Regions from separate parts of the Homo sapiens genome. Here region 2 is linked to region 1. The links come from fine-mapping of genetic effects on gene expression. Tissue or cell type: whole blood. Region 1 holds a variant in brackets; the other region holds the start of a gene. All regions are shown on one strand. Distances are from middle to middle.

Region 1 (8,102 bases):
TTAGTAGAGACAGGGTTTCTGCATGTTGGCCAGGCTGGTCTCGAACTCCTGACCTCAGGTGATCCACCCGCCTCGGCCTCCCAAAGTGCTGGGACTACAGGCGCGGGCCACCGCGCCAAGCCCTTCTGGTATTTCTTTATGGTAATCAACATCTATTGAGCACTTTCTTCCAAGGAATGTGCCGATATATGTAATGTTCTTTTCCATCAGTTATCTCATTTAACCCTCACAACAACCCTATAAGGTTAAGTACTGTTATCACACCCCATTTTACAGAAGCAGAAACTGAAGCCCAGAGGGGTGAAGTAACTTGCCCAAGCTCAGTTAGTAAGTTAAGGCGGCTCTCTCCAAAGCGAGTCTTCTTAACACGGAGGCAGACACAAGACAGCGGGGACTCTTCAGGCGTTCCGGGCTGAGAGTTTGGGCGCCTGCGTTTTATTGCAGGCACTACCTGACTTGGATCGGTGGCTTCCCTTCTCGGTGTAATGGACAAATCGGACTCCGTCCCTTCCTAAAGCCCGGTGTGGAAGACCTCAGCACTAATGCCTGCCCCACCCTCTCTGCTCTCTCCCCAGGACCGCCGGGAGAGCCTGCCCACCTCCCCACCCTGGACGCCGGGCGCGTCCCGGCCCCCCAGCAGCCTAGACGGCTGGGTGAGCCCGGGCCCGTGGGAGCCAGGTCGCGGGAGCAGCATGAGCAGCCCCCCGCCGCTGCCGCCGCCACCGCCCATGTCTCCCTCGTGGAGCGAGCGCTCGGTGTCCCCGCTGCGACCTGAGACCGAGGCGCGGCCCCCCAGCCGCCAGCTGCAGGCGCTTCTGGCGCGAAACATCATCAATGCGGCCCGGCGCAAGAGCGCCTCCCCGCGGTCGGCGGGCGCCGAGAACCCGCGGCCCTTCTCCCCGCCGAGGGCGCCACCGCCCCCGCCCCCGCCCCCGCCCCCGCCCCCGCGCATGCGCTCGCCACAGCCCGCCCGCCCCGGCTCGGCTGCTGTGCCGGGGGCAGCCTTCGCGCCCATCCCGCGGAGCCCGTTGCCCGCCGGTCCTTCGTCCTGCACCAGTCCCCGGAGCCCGCTGCCCGCGCCTCCCAGGCCCTTCCTCTACCGCCGCTCGCCCACGGACTCCGACGTGTCCCTCGACTCCGAGGACTCCGGGGCTAAGTCTCCAGGCATCCTGGGCTACAATATCTGTCCCCGCGGGTGGAATGGCAGCCTTCGGCTCAAGCGTGGCAGCCTCCCCGCCGAGGCCTCCTGCACCACCTAGAGCCCCACCCCCGACCCCACCCCGGGAGGGCAGAGCCAGAAGAAGGCTCATTAGACCTGGGGGACCCAAAGGGTCTGGCCTCTTTGGGCAGCCCCAGAGATGAGGGGTCAGCAGAGGAGAGCTCTGGGGTTGGGGATGGGTTAGGGACGCAAGCTTGAGTTCTAGCCCTTGCTCTCATTCAGCTGTTGTGTGACCCTGGGTAAGACCCTTCCTTGTTTGACCCTCAGCTTTCCCATCTGTTTAATGGTGGCTTTGGCCAAGGCAATCCACAAACGTCAAAATTCCCCTTCCCATCAGTACACACACCGATGCACACACACTCTCTCTTTCTCTCTCTCTCTCTCTCACACACACACACACACACACACACACACACACACACACACACACTAGTTAGTGCCTTGGATGAGGCGGGGCAGTGTGTATATGGACCCCTGGACTTGCTACCTTCAGGGTTCCATACTCGTCCCTCCCCTCCTGGCTCTGCTGTCTGGAGTCTGGCAAGCGGGGTGTGTTCAGAAGGTCCTAGGCCTGTGTCGCATGTCCAGGCACTGGCCTGACCATCCGGCTCCCTGGCACCAAGTCCCAGGCAGGAGCAGCTGTTTTCCATCCCTTCCCAGACAAGCTCTATTTTTATCACAATGACCTTTAGAGAGGTCTCCCAGGCCAGCTCAAGGTGTCCCACTATCCCCTCTGGAGGGAAGAGGCAGGAAAATTCTCCCCGGGTCCCTGTCATGCTACTTTCTCCATCCCAGTTCAGACTGTCCAGGACATCTTATCTGCAGCCATAAGAGAATTATAAGGCAGTGATTTCCCTTAGGCCCAGGACTTGGGCCTCCAGCTCATCTGTTCCTTCTGGGCCCATTCATGGCAGGTTCTGGGCTCAAAGCTGAACTGGGGAGAGAAGAGATACAGAGCTACCATGTGACTTTACCTGATTGCCCTCAGTTTGGGGTTGCTTATTGGGAAAGAGAGAGACAAAGAGTTACTTGTTACGGGAAATATGAAAAGCATGGCCAGGATGCATAGAGGAGATTCTAGCAGGGGACAGGATTGGCTCAGATGACCCCTGAGGGCTCTTCCAGTCTTGAAATGCATTCCATGATATTAGGAAGTCGGGGGTGGGTGGTGGTGGTGGGCTAGTTGGGCTTGAATTTAGGGGCCGATGAGCTTGGGTACGTGAGCAGGGTGTTAAGTTAGGGTCTGCCTGTATTTCTGGTCCCCTTGGAAATGTCCCCTTCTTCAGTGTCAGACCTCAGTCCCAGTGTCCATATCGTGCCCAGAAAAGTAGACATTATCCTGCCCCATCCCTTCCCCAGTGCACTCTGACCTAGCTAGTGCCTGGTGCCCAGTGACCTGGGGGAGCCTGGCTGCAGGCCCTCACTGGTTCCCTAAACCTTGGTGGCTGTGATTCAGGTCCCCAGGGGGGACTCAGGGAGGAATATGGCTGAGTTCTGTAGTTTCCAGAGTTGGCTGGTAGAGCCTTCTAGAGGTTCAGAATATTAGCTTCAGGATCAGCTGGGGGTATGGAATTGGCTGAGGATCAAACGTATGTAGGTGAAAGGATACCAGGATGTTGCTAAAGGTGAGGGACAGTTTGGGTTTGGGACTTACCGGGGTGATGTTAGATCTGGAACCCCCAAGTGAGGCTGGAGGGAGTTAAGGTCAGTATGGAAGATAGGGTTGGGACAGGGTGCTTTGGAATGAAAGAGTGACCTTAGAGGGCTCCTTGGGCCTCAGGAATGCTCCTGCTGCTGTGAAGATGAGAAGGTGCTCTTACTCAGTTAATGATGAGTGACTATATTTACCAAAGCCCCTACCTGCTGCTGGGTCCCTTGTAGCACAGGAGACTGGGGCTAAGGGCCCCTCCCAGGGAAGGGACACCATCAGGCCTCTGGCTGAGGCAGTAGCATAGAGGATCCATTTCTACCTGCATTTCCCAGAGGACTAGCAGGAGGCAGCCTTGAGAAACCGGCAGTTCCCAAGCCAGCGCCTGGCTGTTCTCTCATTGTCACTGCCCTCTCCCCAACCTCTCCTCTAACCCACTAGAGATTGCCTGTGTCCTGCCTCTTGCCTCTTGTAGAATGCAGCTCTGGCCCTCAATAAATGCTTCCTGCATTCTTCTGCCTCCTGTGTCATTTTCAGCTGTGTCTGATGTCCTTCCCTTCTCCCCAAGCATGGAGCAGTCCATGGGACTCTGGGTGGCTGGGAATATTTGAGACATATGGGATGGGAGCTTGGGAAGAAGCAGCCATGGGGAGAGATGGGAACAACGGACAACTTGAGGCCATAGAAGTACCTGGACTGCAGTCCTGGTCCTGTCATGGACGAGCGGGGTGACCCTGGGTGAGCCCACTCCTTCTCTAGGCCTCAGCTTCCCCATCCGTATAATGGGGAGAGTGGGTCTAGGTAATGTCTCAGGGTGGTATTGTCCAGGCCCTGACCACAGAGCACTATCACCAGAGTGGGCAGGGCCAAGCTGGGTCAGGGCTCTGTGCTCTGAGGCTGTTTCCTCATGGCAGGTGGGGGTGCCAGGGCAGGAAAGGCGCCACTGTAAGAGGTCCCGTCTGAGCCAGGCAGCCCCAGTGAGGCAAGGACTCGGGCCATGAGGCATCCTCTCCTGGCAGGAGTGTCCTTTGGCCAGAGAAGGGGATTGTGATCCTGCTCCCAGGTGAGGCTAAGCTTGCCCTGGGAACACACCTCACTCTTCCTCTCTAGAAGCTCAGGCCCACCGAGGGCCAGGAAGCTAAGGTCAGGGTGGTGGACAGCAGAATCTAGGCTTCTGATTTGAGAGGTGTCAGAAATACACCCCAGGATAGTCTGCCAGCACACAGACACCGGTGGTCCCCACCCTGCACCCAGCCCATCCTTGCTAGGCCCACCCTTCCCCAGGAGTGTGTGCCTTGGACCCAATCTTTATCTTCGGCTGGGGCCTCACTGCAGCACAGTGTCCCATTGCCTACTGG[T/G]GATCTCATCCCAGTCCCCCGACACCTCAAAGTTCATCCAAAACTGACCTCAGTGTCTGCCCCCACCCCTCCTGCTCCTCCCCTTCCAGTCACCCAAGCATGAAACAGGGGAGTGGGACTCCCTTTCCTCACCTTCCACATCCAGTTCCTCACCAAGACCCAAGGGTTCTTCAAATAACCCTCAACTCCCTCTCCTCTCCATCTCCTTGTCACTGCCCTGATCCAGCCACCCCTGGTGACAGTCAGGTCCTCCTGCCTCCAGTCTGGCCCCCTCCAACCCATTTCCCACATGGCAGCAAAGATATCTTTGGAAAATGCCAATCCGATCACTCCATTTCACCACTTTAATCTTGTCAGCAACCCTTTATAAACACAGTTTCCTTTTGAAAGCCTGCTGGGATCTGGCCGCTGCCCCCACTGTCTGGGCTAATCTCTCAGCACTGCCCCCAGCTCCGGCTCTACTTGCCAACCCCCTACCCATCTTTGTAGGTGACATGTCCACTGCCTGCCATGCCCCTTCTCTGCCCAGTGAACTCCCACTCATCCTTCAAGGCCCAACTCCAGTGTGTCCTCCTCTGGGAAGCCTTCTCACCCCCCACCCCAGGCTGAGCTGGTAACTCCCTCCCCTGGGCTCTCCCAGAGCCTTCCCCAAAGCTTGTTTACCCGTCTGAATCTGACCTGGCTGAGCTCCTTGAAGACAGAGCCCTGCCTTATTTATTTTCAGTCCTTAGAGAGAGGCTCAGGGAATGTGAGAAGGTAGAGGGAGGGAGGGAGGGAGGGAGGAGGGGAGAAAAGAAGGCAGGCAGGAAGGAGGCAGAAGAAGAAAGGCAGGAGAGAAGAAAGGAAGGAAGAAAAGGATAAGTCAAGCAAAGATATTGAGGAGCAATTCATTCATCCATCTATCTATCCATCCATTCCTTCCTTCGACAAATATCTGCTGAGTTCCTATCAAGCACCATTCTTGGCACTAAGGATATAACAGTTAACAAGCGGAAGCTACCAGCAGCTGACCCTCAACATTTCCAGGTGACTTTGGTGTGTGCATATGTGAGTGTGTGTGTACACGTGGGTGCAAGCCCTCTGTCTGCACAGGCCTGTTGCCAGGGCACCTGTCTTCCCTAGGGTCTGGTGCTTTTAGCCTCTGGCTCCAGCTCCTATTGCAGCCCGAAATAAGGCTGTGACCCATGGCAAGGCAGGAATGATTCTCATCAGCTGAAGCCAGAGCTGGCTGCAGGGGACACCCTGCTCGCTGCCTACTGACTGCTGACCGCTGACTGCCTACAGGGACGCCACGCAACTCTCAGCTTCCCGACAGAGGTGTTAATCTTGAGGGTCTAAGATTCCCTCCTGCCTATTGTGGTCCCATCCTCTCAGGTACCAGCATCCTAGGGGAGCTTGGGGAACTCAGGGGAGTGGGCAGAGGAGGTGAGCCAATCCCCAGAGCTCCTTCCCCCGGAGAGGAAGGGCCCTGCAGTGGATCTAGGGAGTTTGGGGCCCCATGCAAGCCTCGATCCTGGTTTGGGAGGAGAGGAACTCTAAGCTCTAGGTTACCCTGCATTAAATGGGGAGGGTGTGGCTAGGATTAAAGGTGGGGAATAGGTAATGGCTCTGCTCAGGACTTTGGGATTTTTAGGCAGTAGAGGGAAGCAGCTTCTCTGTAAAATGAGAGACCCTTCCCAGCATCTGTGAATTTCTGTAAAGGGAGTGTTTATCAAGAAACAGATCTGTGGACTGTGGAATCCTAAACGGTTGTGATCGAGGCATTCTCAATCATCCCATGACCCTCACCCCAAATGCATGTAGACACACTCATGTTTACGTATAGTTTTAGGGGGTTTGTGAACACCCTAAAGCCCATCCATGGATCTCTGTGATTTAGCCTAACCCCCTACTGTTACAGATGGGGGAACTGAGGTGCAGAGCTGGAAAGCTACTTGTTCGCAGTTACAGAGAAAGCCAGGGACACCCACTAGACTCCAGTTGCACAATGCAGTGCCCACTGACTCCCAGGGCCCCTTGTCGGTGTTGGGGATACAGATGAAGGCAGATTGTTTTCTAAAGGAAGGAGTATAGGAAAACCTGGAGGCAAAGGAGAAGGGTACCCAGGTGGGTGGTCAGTCGAGGAGCTCAAGGGCTCTGCCTCTTCTCCAGAGGGCAAGTTAAGGTACCTGGGCAAGTTAAGGGCTCTGGACCTCATTTTATTTGCAAATCTCTTCCAAGATTCTTTGAAAGTGCCATGAGATACAAATAGGGGGATGGAACAGGAGGAAGAGAAGGGACGAGGGAGAAGAGAACACCACGGAAGTTAGCCCAGTAGCGGGGAGATGGGGAGGACGGGGGATGGTTCTCTCTGCTTGGTTGGACCAGCCTGTGCCCTCAAGCGTCAGGGCCAAGTGCCAAGGATGAAAGGGGCTCACCAGCCTTGCAGACCCCAGTGTAACCCCAACCTAGTCCATCCTCCCCCTTCCCCTAACTTAAACCTCCAACTTCTTTCAGCCTTGGACTAGGACTCTCCTGGGTCAACCGATGACAGTAGTGCCTGAGACCTTTGCCTGCCCCACCCGGATGCCCCTGGCACCTACTCTCCCTCTGATCAGGATGCCAGAGCTGGGAAAAGGCCCTAGAAACCACCCCTGAAGAGACAGTGCTTCCCTAGCAACATGAAAATAGATTCGTGCAAACTTGAGCACCTCCCTCTCGTTCCCTGGGCCTCAGTCTCCTCTGCACGGAGACCCTGAAGTCCCTTCCAGCTCAGACATCCCTTGCTTGTGATTTGGGGCTGGCCTAAAGCTGTTCAGGACTGGGGCAGGGTGAACCAGAGACTGGAAGGAGGTCTGGGGAGAAATGGAGGCAGCCTGGTCCATTTATGGGGGTCTCTCCTCCACAGGATGATCCCCAAGGAGCAGAAGGGGCCAGTGATGGCTGCCATGGGGGACCTCACTGAACCAGGTAAGGTGGTTCTAGCCTCATGCCTTCCTCAGACTCCATCATTTCCTTGCTCCCAGGCTGCACTCACTCTGGCCTGCTGGCCCCAGGCCTGGGCAGACAGGTGTGAGCTCCAGGCCAGCTCTGAGGGAGTGCCTGTAGAATTTGCTGCCTAGGCTGGGAAGCTTCCCTGAGGCACTGGGAGGGGTCTTGCCCATCTGTCCACAGACCCAGGAGCTGAGGCTGAGTGTCCCAGGCTGGGCCTTGGCTCTAAAATGACCCTGGCCCTGGCTTCATCTAAGGCCTCACCTCAGCCCCAAATTAAGCTCTGAAGACTCTGGTCCCAACTCCAGCCCTACCTGTGGCTGCAAGCTCTGCACACACTTGCCTTTGCCTATTACTCCTGTGGGTCTCACCGAGGCCTCTGGGTGGCCCAGGATGGCTGGGCCCCATGGCTAAGAGAGGGGAGTGGAGAGAGTGGAGTAGGGTGGGAAGACAGGGGAGTCGAGAGAGTGGAGCAGGGTGGGAAGAGCAGGCTGCCCATTTGAATACAAAACTTTCTACTTAAAGCTGATTCATCAAATGAGTAAATCATTTTTATCATTTCATTAAAAAAGTTTAAATTCATTTTTATCAATTTTAGAAGACCTCTTGAGGAACTCTTGATACAATTTTGGAATCTGTTTATTTGGTCTACTTTAGAGGATTTCAGGTATTTTAAAAATTAATTTAGGGGCTGGACACAGAGGCTGATGCCTTTAATCCCAGCACTTTGGGAGGCTGAGGTGGAAGAATTGCTTGAGCCCAGGAGTTTGAGACCAGCCGGGGCAACATGGTGAGACTCCATCTCTACAAAAAAAAAAAATTAGCCAGGCATGGTGGCACATGCCTGTGGTCCCAGCTACTCAGGAGGCTGAGGCAAGAGGATCGTTTGAGCCTAGGAGTTGGAGGC
Region 2 (8,100 bases), 41 kb after region 1:
GGGCCAGTTTGAGCAGCATGTCACTGGTAGATGTGGCTTTCCCCAGCATGCCAACTGGCCGTGTTCCATCAGAGTTAGAAATCTAAGTGGGGATGACAAATTCAAAAGATAAATTATACAGACTGTGTCAATTCATTAGGATTTTTATCCAAAAAGTGGCAGCATACCTCTCTCTCCATATTCTGTGTATAGTACTCTTTGTTGACATCTGACTTTGGCATGTCATCTTTAAAAGACAATCCTGCGTCACGAACCTGGATGGGCAGGCCTGGTACAAAAAAAGAGGAAAAAGACCTCAGATGTATTTTAAAACATATCCATACTAACCATGCACACAGAATACATCATCTTTCCCTTCTCCTCTTTCCTATTTAGTACCAGAGACTTTACTATGTTTTTATTCAAACTCTTTAGCACCATCAGGTTACTTCTGCTACACAGCATGCTAAGAAATTGTCCAAATTCCTGAACTGTCAGGAAATTTGATGAAATTAATGCTTTAGAAAAAATCTTTTAGGCTGGGTGTGGTGGCTCATGCCTGTAATCCTAGCACTTTGCAAGGCTGGAGCTGACAGATAGCTTGAGTCCAGGAGTTCGAGACCAGCCTGGTCAACGTGGTGAAACCCCATTTCTACAAAAAATACAAAAATTAGCTGGGTGTGGTGGTATGCACCTGTAGTCCTAGCTACCCAGGAGGCTGAGGTGGATCACCTGAGCTTGGAAAGGTTAAGGCTGCAGTGAGCCATGACCATGCCACTGCACTCCAGCCTGGGCAACAGAGTGACACCCTGTCTCAAAAACAAAAAACAAAAAAATTATAAAAGAAAATTTTTAGATGAACAAACTGTGCCCATGGTCATATTCAACCTGTAAATTAGCTCCTAGTTTTTATTACAACATGATTTATTTAAAGTAAATGTAAAAGTGGTTTCTTTCTAGGTTAGTCTTACAGATCCTCTGGATAGTCACAGTCATCTAAGGGTCACTGTACTCCAGGACCAGACGCCTCCTTAACAAACATATAAATAATATTACATAAAATGTGGCCAGGACTCTGACTAGAAGAGTAACTCTAATGAACTTAACATACATAAACTCATATATTTTTCCCTTTCCTTTAATAGTAAAAACTCTTGTTGAAAAATTATCTTTCTGAAAAACAGTCACCTATGGTTAAAAAAAAAATTACTCCCAAAAGCAGTTACTCTGAAACAGTAGCAATATATCAGTTCTAACAACACAATTGAAATAAAAGTCTAAAGCACAATTAGGCTGGCTATAGTGGCTCTGGGAGGCCAAGGTGGGAGGACTGCTTGAGGCCAGAAGCTCAAAACCAGCCTGGGCAAAATAGTGACACACACACACACGTGCACTGGGTGTGGTGGTATACCAGGAGGCAGAGGCAAGAGGATCCCTTGAGCCCAGGAGTTCGAAGTTGCAGTGAGCTGTGATCACACCACTGTACTCTAGCCTGGGTGTCAGAGTGAGACCCTAACTCAAAAAATAAAATAAAATAAAGCACAATTACCCTGTGAGCTTCTGATTGGGATGGTGGAAAAAAGCTCTGGATCAAGAAAGAAGCCTAAGGCAAATAAATTATCTATCATAGGATCAACGCCTTTTACCTCACTTGGGCTACAGAGATGAAGGTTTAGGCCACTTTTGATTAATTCCCAACTTTTCCTTAAGTTCCTACTATTGTTCAGGACTCTAGAGTGGCCTAATTATGGTTCTTTTCCTGGGAAAAGCAGACCACGGCAGACATTCCAAAGTGAAATCAGAACCAGAGCTAGGGTGCGAAGTGGGAGACAAAAGACTGACTTGTAGTTTTAGGCACCTGCACACTTTCAGATTTATTGGACAGGTCAAACATACCATACTCTAGGTCTAAGAGGCAGGTCTGACAGACATTCTTCAATTTACTGCAGGTTTGGCACACTTCAGTCTTCTTGAAACGCATGCGGACTCCAGGGCACCAGCGAAACACTGTGAATGGCCTGGCACAGATCTGGAACACAAAGCAAGAGCCATAGAATGTCAATGGTCCTGATCTGGGCAATCTGGAGATCTGATAACAACGGGGCATTCAAAAAAGGATCCCTGAATGTAGGATTTAGAAGAGACCTTAGCAATCATCTAGTTGATTTGATGTTTCAATACAATTTTCAGCATCCTTCTCCAGCAAAAATTCAGAGTACAGAAATGAAATAGCCAAAGGGTCAAAGTTCTTCCCATCCTAGAGCTAAGCACCAATAATAATCTGAACCTTAATCTTTTTTAGGGGGAGTGGGGAGTGTCATGTAATTTTTTGAGAAGCTTCTGACAAGAATGACCTTCCTCCTCAGCTAAAATGCTCGAGTGGACAGTCATACACCACCTGGTGTACAAACTCCTCCAGTGCCCATCCACTGACACCGTAAGAATCTCTACATTAGAGGGTTCATTTTCTTACCTCCCACATAAACAGTTGCCAGCCAATGAATATATCAGTAATACATAAAAAGTTGTATAGCACTGATTTTTACTGGAAGACCTCAAAACTTAGTAAGCTGAAGGCTAATTTGGTAGAGAAAAGAAAAATGAAACAGAAATCATTACTCTTTAACAGACATACTTACTTTGCATTCCTTCCCATACTTTTCTTTGGTCTATAATAGAAAAAAAATAGAAAAGAACTGGAGTTACAGAAAGAAAAAAGCCAGATGTCTACTCTTTCCTTAAACATAACCCAAGAAATGTGTCTGGAAATCCCTGGCATCCTAGAGAGAGAAAAACAGCAACAACAAAACCCAAAACCCAACCTTTTTTGGGAAGAGGGTAGGGAACATACTATAACAACATATTATAAGTGATAACATCTCAAGAGTATATGGATCTGGGCTGGGTGGCAGTGGCTCACGCCTGTAATCCCAACACTTTGAGAGGCCAAGGTGGAAGGATTGCTTGAGCCCAGGAGTTCCAGACTAGCCTGGGCAACATAGCGAGATGCTGTCTCTACAGAAAAAAGAAATAGAGTATATGCATCTAATGCTAGGTAAGTGAGTGTCTTTCCACAGCCACAACTCTTAGGTTCATTTTTGGCTCCCAAGTTCACTCCCAAGAACTAACATTCCTAATGCTTTCCACAATCCCTAAATCAGAGAGGATACAGCTGTGGCCCGCCCACTTTACAAAGTTTAGTCAAAAGGTAGCTACTGTAGACTTGTCCTGTGCCAATGCCCGGAATATAGTAAATGTTCTGTTTAAACAGAACTATTCAAACATCTTGAACCATTCAAACATCGTGAACATACTAACATATCAACACCTCTACGACTACACAATAATACAGCCCTAACCTTATTATTGTTAACTGGTTCTAATTTTACCCTAGTTTGTAACAAAGGGGGAATGCTTACTTTAAAGAGATAAAGTACACTGGCCAAAAGGCATTTGACCAGGATTCAGGAAACCTAGTTTCTAGTTCTGGTTCTCCTCCTATCATGCTGACATTCCTAGAGCCAGAATATGTGAACTTAAATCCCAGCTCCATTCCTTACTATTGTATGAAAAGACACAAACGCTCTCACCTTCTGGTCAACAGACCTATTTCCTAGGTAAATGCTCAACAAATACTAGCTATCGTTATTACCCCTACATTACAGGAGTGTTACCGGATTCGTAAGAGAATACACATGACAGTTCTTTGCAAGTCGTCCAGCACTTCGCGTTAGTAAAAGAGCATCATTTTTTCTGCTTGTCTAAGAGAAACACTTCACAGTGTGCAAGTACCACAACATCGACAGGACATGAATAACTCGTTTCACACGCGATCACTCACCATTCGGATATATGGGTTTTCTCCAAGACATGTCTGGCACAGAATGGGGAAGTCCTGGTGAAAATGGGAAATCTGGTTGAGGACCACCCTCCGAAGACCCTGACACCTCAGTGACACTTGGGGTGGCGAGGGGGCGGGAAGCGAGGGTGGGGAACTAGGCACGGCAGGAACCCGAAGTCCATCACGACCCGATCGCGGGAGGGGGCGCTGTCTGCACTTCCGGCAGGCGGCGGGAGAAAAGAAAACCAGCTCTAATAGGCTGGAGGGGGCAGGGATGGAAAGGGTGCTGGTCCCGGGACCCTGGCTAAGCCCCCTCCCTTCAAGCCCGCAGGAGGATCGCCCTCCGCCCTCCTGCTCCGGCCAAGCTAGGCCGCCGCGCTGGCTCCTCCCCGGTATTCCTTCGGCCGCGCCGCAGGCCCTGTCCTGCCAGCTTGCAAGGTGCGCGGCTTCGCCTCCTCCTTCCATCCTCCTCCGGCAGGCACACTCACCGCATCCTCCCAGTTCTGCCTGTTGTAGGTGTTGGAACCCAGAGAGGTCGCCATCTTGAGAGCGTCCGGAGGTAGCTGTAGCTTCCGAATTGGGAGAGAGGACCGCCACAATCCCGTCAAGCCCCGAGGCTAGCGCCGCGCCGGTCGGCGTCTTATTTACGCGTCTAGGGCTTCTTCCGGGGCGGGGCCTTTGCGTCATGACGTCGCCCGCTCTTGGAATTTCTAAGCTTAACAATTGGGGTCCTGGTATAATGCACCTGGATGCTTCCTTCGAGTTTTTGCCTGCTTGGAATGAAGGGCCACACGTACAGTTGATTCATTTAACAATTGGGCGAAAGAATAAAGGAAGACGTAATGCATCAGAGGCTGGGGTTAAAATAGCGTTCGCTACCACTGAGGCGCTTATTATGCCAAACTCTGGGCGAACGTCTTGCGGTTCCAGTGTCTTATTTATTCGCATAACCTCTCTGTAGGGCTCTCTGTAGGGCTGCCAGATTCTGATTCTGTCTCTCTCTCTCTCTCTCTCTCTCTCTCTCTCTCTCTGTCACTCACACACACACATGCACACACACACACGCACGAATTACAGAACGTCTAAAGTTGAATTTCAGATTAACGGCGAATCGCTTTTTAATTATAAATATATATGGTACCTACTCGTCCTAAAGTAGGATTCGTGGTTGACCTGAAATTCACATCACTTAACCAATCGTCCTGTATTTTATCTGGTAACTCTACCCTGTAGGCAAGTATGATGATCCCTCTTTTATAGAAAAGAAAACAGGTTTAGAGAGATTAACCTAATCTCTCCTGATATAGCTCCTGGTTGTGGAGCTAAAAAGTGGTGAAGCCACAAATTCATTAGTACTGTTTCATTTCCAGCTTCTGAAATGACAAGGGTCTTACGAATCAACATATGCATTATTTGATTTTTGGAATAACTCATAACCACTCTGCCAATATTTTATGAGTTTCAAGCCATTCTGGTACCACTTTCATACTTACCGTGTCATCAAGCTACCTAACACATTTATTTAAATCACCTCATTAAAAAAAAAAGTTGATTTAAAGTATAATTTACATAAAGTTTTATCCTTTTTAGTTTTGAATTTTGTACATACATTCACTTACAGTCAAATATGGAATTGTCTGTCATCCCCAAAGTTCCCTTGTTTCTGTAGTTAGTCCACTTATCCCATACTCAAACCATGGCAATCACTAATTTGTGTTCTGTCCCTAGTTTTGCCTTTTCCAGAATGTCACATAAGTGGAATCCTATATATCCTTTTGGATCTGATATTTTTTCACTTAGTATTTTGTAGTTGAGATTCATCCATATTATTACATGTATCAATAATTTCTTCCTTTGTATTACTGAGTAGAATTCCATTGTATGGATATATCATACAATTCACTTGCCAGTTGCTGGATATTTGGGTTGTTCCCAGATTTTAGTGAATATAAATAAAACCATTATAAACATTCACATACAGATCGTTGTATGGACATTGGTTTTCATTTTGCTTGTGTAAATGCCTTAGAGTGAGATTATTTGATCATATGGTAAGTATATCTTTTCCTTTATAAGAAAGTCCTTGGGTTTATCTGAGCTTCTTGGATCTGTGATTTGTTGTCTTTTATTATATTTGGAAAATTCTCAAGTATCATCTCTTCAGACTGTCTTCTGCCTGGTTTCTACATCTGTGACTCCAATTTCACATGCCTTGTGAGGAGTGCAAGGTCAGAAATAACAGAGTCCACGTACATTTGTGTTTTTCCACAATGCCAGACTTTTACTGATGCTATTTCAATCACAAAAGCCACGAACTACATGGAGTTTCCAAGAAAGCAATTCTCCTTAGTACTTCCCACTCACTCAGCACTCAGAGTCTTGGACACACAGGCTCAAGGCACTCCACAGGTCAATCAATATTGCAAATCATGCATAATGGTATACTTAATCAACATATATATTATAGAGTGAACATTCCACAAACAAAATAACATTTAACATTAAGAGAAAAGAGATAGGACCCTTTTCTCCTTTAAGTCTGGAGCCCTCAGAATCATCTCCTTTCCTTCCTTTTTCCCTCTTTCCTCCCCCAATTTATTTTTTAATCTTTGTGGGACATGACTTCTAGGAATGAGCCTTCCTAGCAACATGGAACATGACTTCCTAGGAATGAGCCTTCCTAGTAACGTGAGACCTGAATTTCCTGGAATAAACCATCCTAGCGACAAGAAACCAGCTCAAAAAAGGAGGAAAAAGCGAACTGAGGCCAGGAACACATATTCCTTTTAAAATGCTTTCTCCAAAAGATGTTAAAGAAAAAAAGGGGGAAATGTGAAAGGAAATTAAATCTTGGGACCCCAGACTCATTAAGCCAAAGGGAAAAGTCAAGCTGGGAAGTGGGTCACACAAACCTGCCTCCCGCTTTTGGTTCCTAAATAAGATGGCTACAAGATGGAAAGCTACATGCCTCCCCCATATTTTGCCCACAAGGAAATTCCTAGTGAGGAATTTTACTTTCCTAGAAAGGAAAAAAGAAAAGAGATGAAAAAATATATATAGGGACTAGGCCAGATTTATAGCAACAAAAGGAAAGCAAACCTGGAAGCTGGGTCAAGCTTTATTATATTACTGCCTCCTCAATTAAAGCAATTCTCTGGGCAATCATTACCTTAGCCCTTTCGGTTGCATATTGACTTATTTGCAAACACGTACTATAACAACATTGTAAGCAGAAACAGGACAGAACATAAATTATTCCTTCTATTATAAGCAATAGCTTCTGCCACTAAATTCCCCAGGATCCAAACCAACCACTCAAGCAATGGATTAGTGAGGGTTTTGGATCTGACAGTTGCTTATCTGGGTTTTCATACTGGTCATAATTCAGTTTATGTTCTTTGATTCATCTGGAATATACACACAACATTCAGTTTTTACGGTGGCACAGGTTCCCCTTGTGCTGCCATGAGTATATCTAAAGCCACATAGTTTTGCAACACAGCTTTCCTCATAAGCATGACCTCATTGCTTAGCAAAGAGGTACTCATGCAGCTACCATTTAGGGCCTTTGGGTGTAATTCGTTATGGCCTCTATATGCCATATAACATCTTCGATACCTATCTGTGGTACAAAGATTGAAGCTAAGTGATCATAGCACTGGAATACCAAACATGTCCAATGAGATTGTAAATGAAAAAGGTTTGCTGGTTTAATGGAAGGGTCTGAATTACTGGGCAACATATGGGGGAGGCATGTAGCTTTTCATCTTATAGCCATCTTATTTAGGAACCAAAAGCAGGAGGCAGGTTTGTGTGACCCAGTTCCCAGCTCGACTTTTCCCTTTGGCTTAATGAGTTTGGGGTCCCAAGATTTAATTTCCTTTCACAATATATATAATCCATATTTTCCTTTTCTTTTTTTTCGAGATGGGGGTCTCACTTTGTCACCCAGGCATGATCATAGCTCACTGTTACCTGGAATTCTTGGGTTCAAGGGATCCTCCAGCCTTAGCCTCCCAAGTAGCTGTGACTATAGAAGCAGGCCACGGTGCCCAGCTAATTTTTAACTTTTTTGTAGAGACAGGGTCTCACCATGTTGCCCAAGCTGGTCTCGGAACTCCTGGGCTCAAGTGATTCTCCAGCCTTGGCCTCCCAAAGTGCTGGGATTACAAGTGTGAGCCATGGCACCTGGCTCCATGTTTTCCACCAGATTTTTTAACATTGTAGGGGCCAACAGAAAAGTTCCCCTTTGCCCTCTTAAGATTCACTGAAAATTAACT

What was found. PIP is the estimated chance that this variant, and not a neighbour inherited with it, causes the effect.
Region 2: RBM22 starts here. The variant in region 1 is fine-mapped to the expression of RBM22 in whole blood (TOPMed, PIP above 0.99).

What each region holds. Positions count from the first base shown.
Region 1 is chr5:150,655,829-150,663,930 of GRCh38, forward strand. SYNPO (synaptopodin) reads left to right here. Exons shown (of 3, transcript NM_007286.6): 3 at 576-3,379. The coding sequence ends at 1,259. It overlaps MYOZ3 (myozenin 3), which reads left to right and starts at 5,423. Exons shown (of 7, transcript NM_001122853.3): 1 at 5,423-5,599; 2 at 7,113-7,174. The coding sequence starts at 7,114. RefSeq lists silencers at 554-773, 914-973. The variant T/G (reference allele first, on the strand shown) is at 4,226.
Region 2 is chr5:150,696,624-150,704,723 of GRCh38, forward strand. It overlaps RBM22 (RNA binding motif protein 22), which reads right to left and starts at 4,439. Exons shown (of 11, transcript NM_018047.3): 1 at 4,309-4,439; 2 at 3,821-3,874; 3 at 2,619-2,648; 4 at 1,876-2,008; 5 at 168-268; 6 at 1-82. The coding sequence starts at 4,362. RefSeq lists enhancers at 3,681-4,457, 4,458-5,234.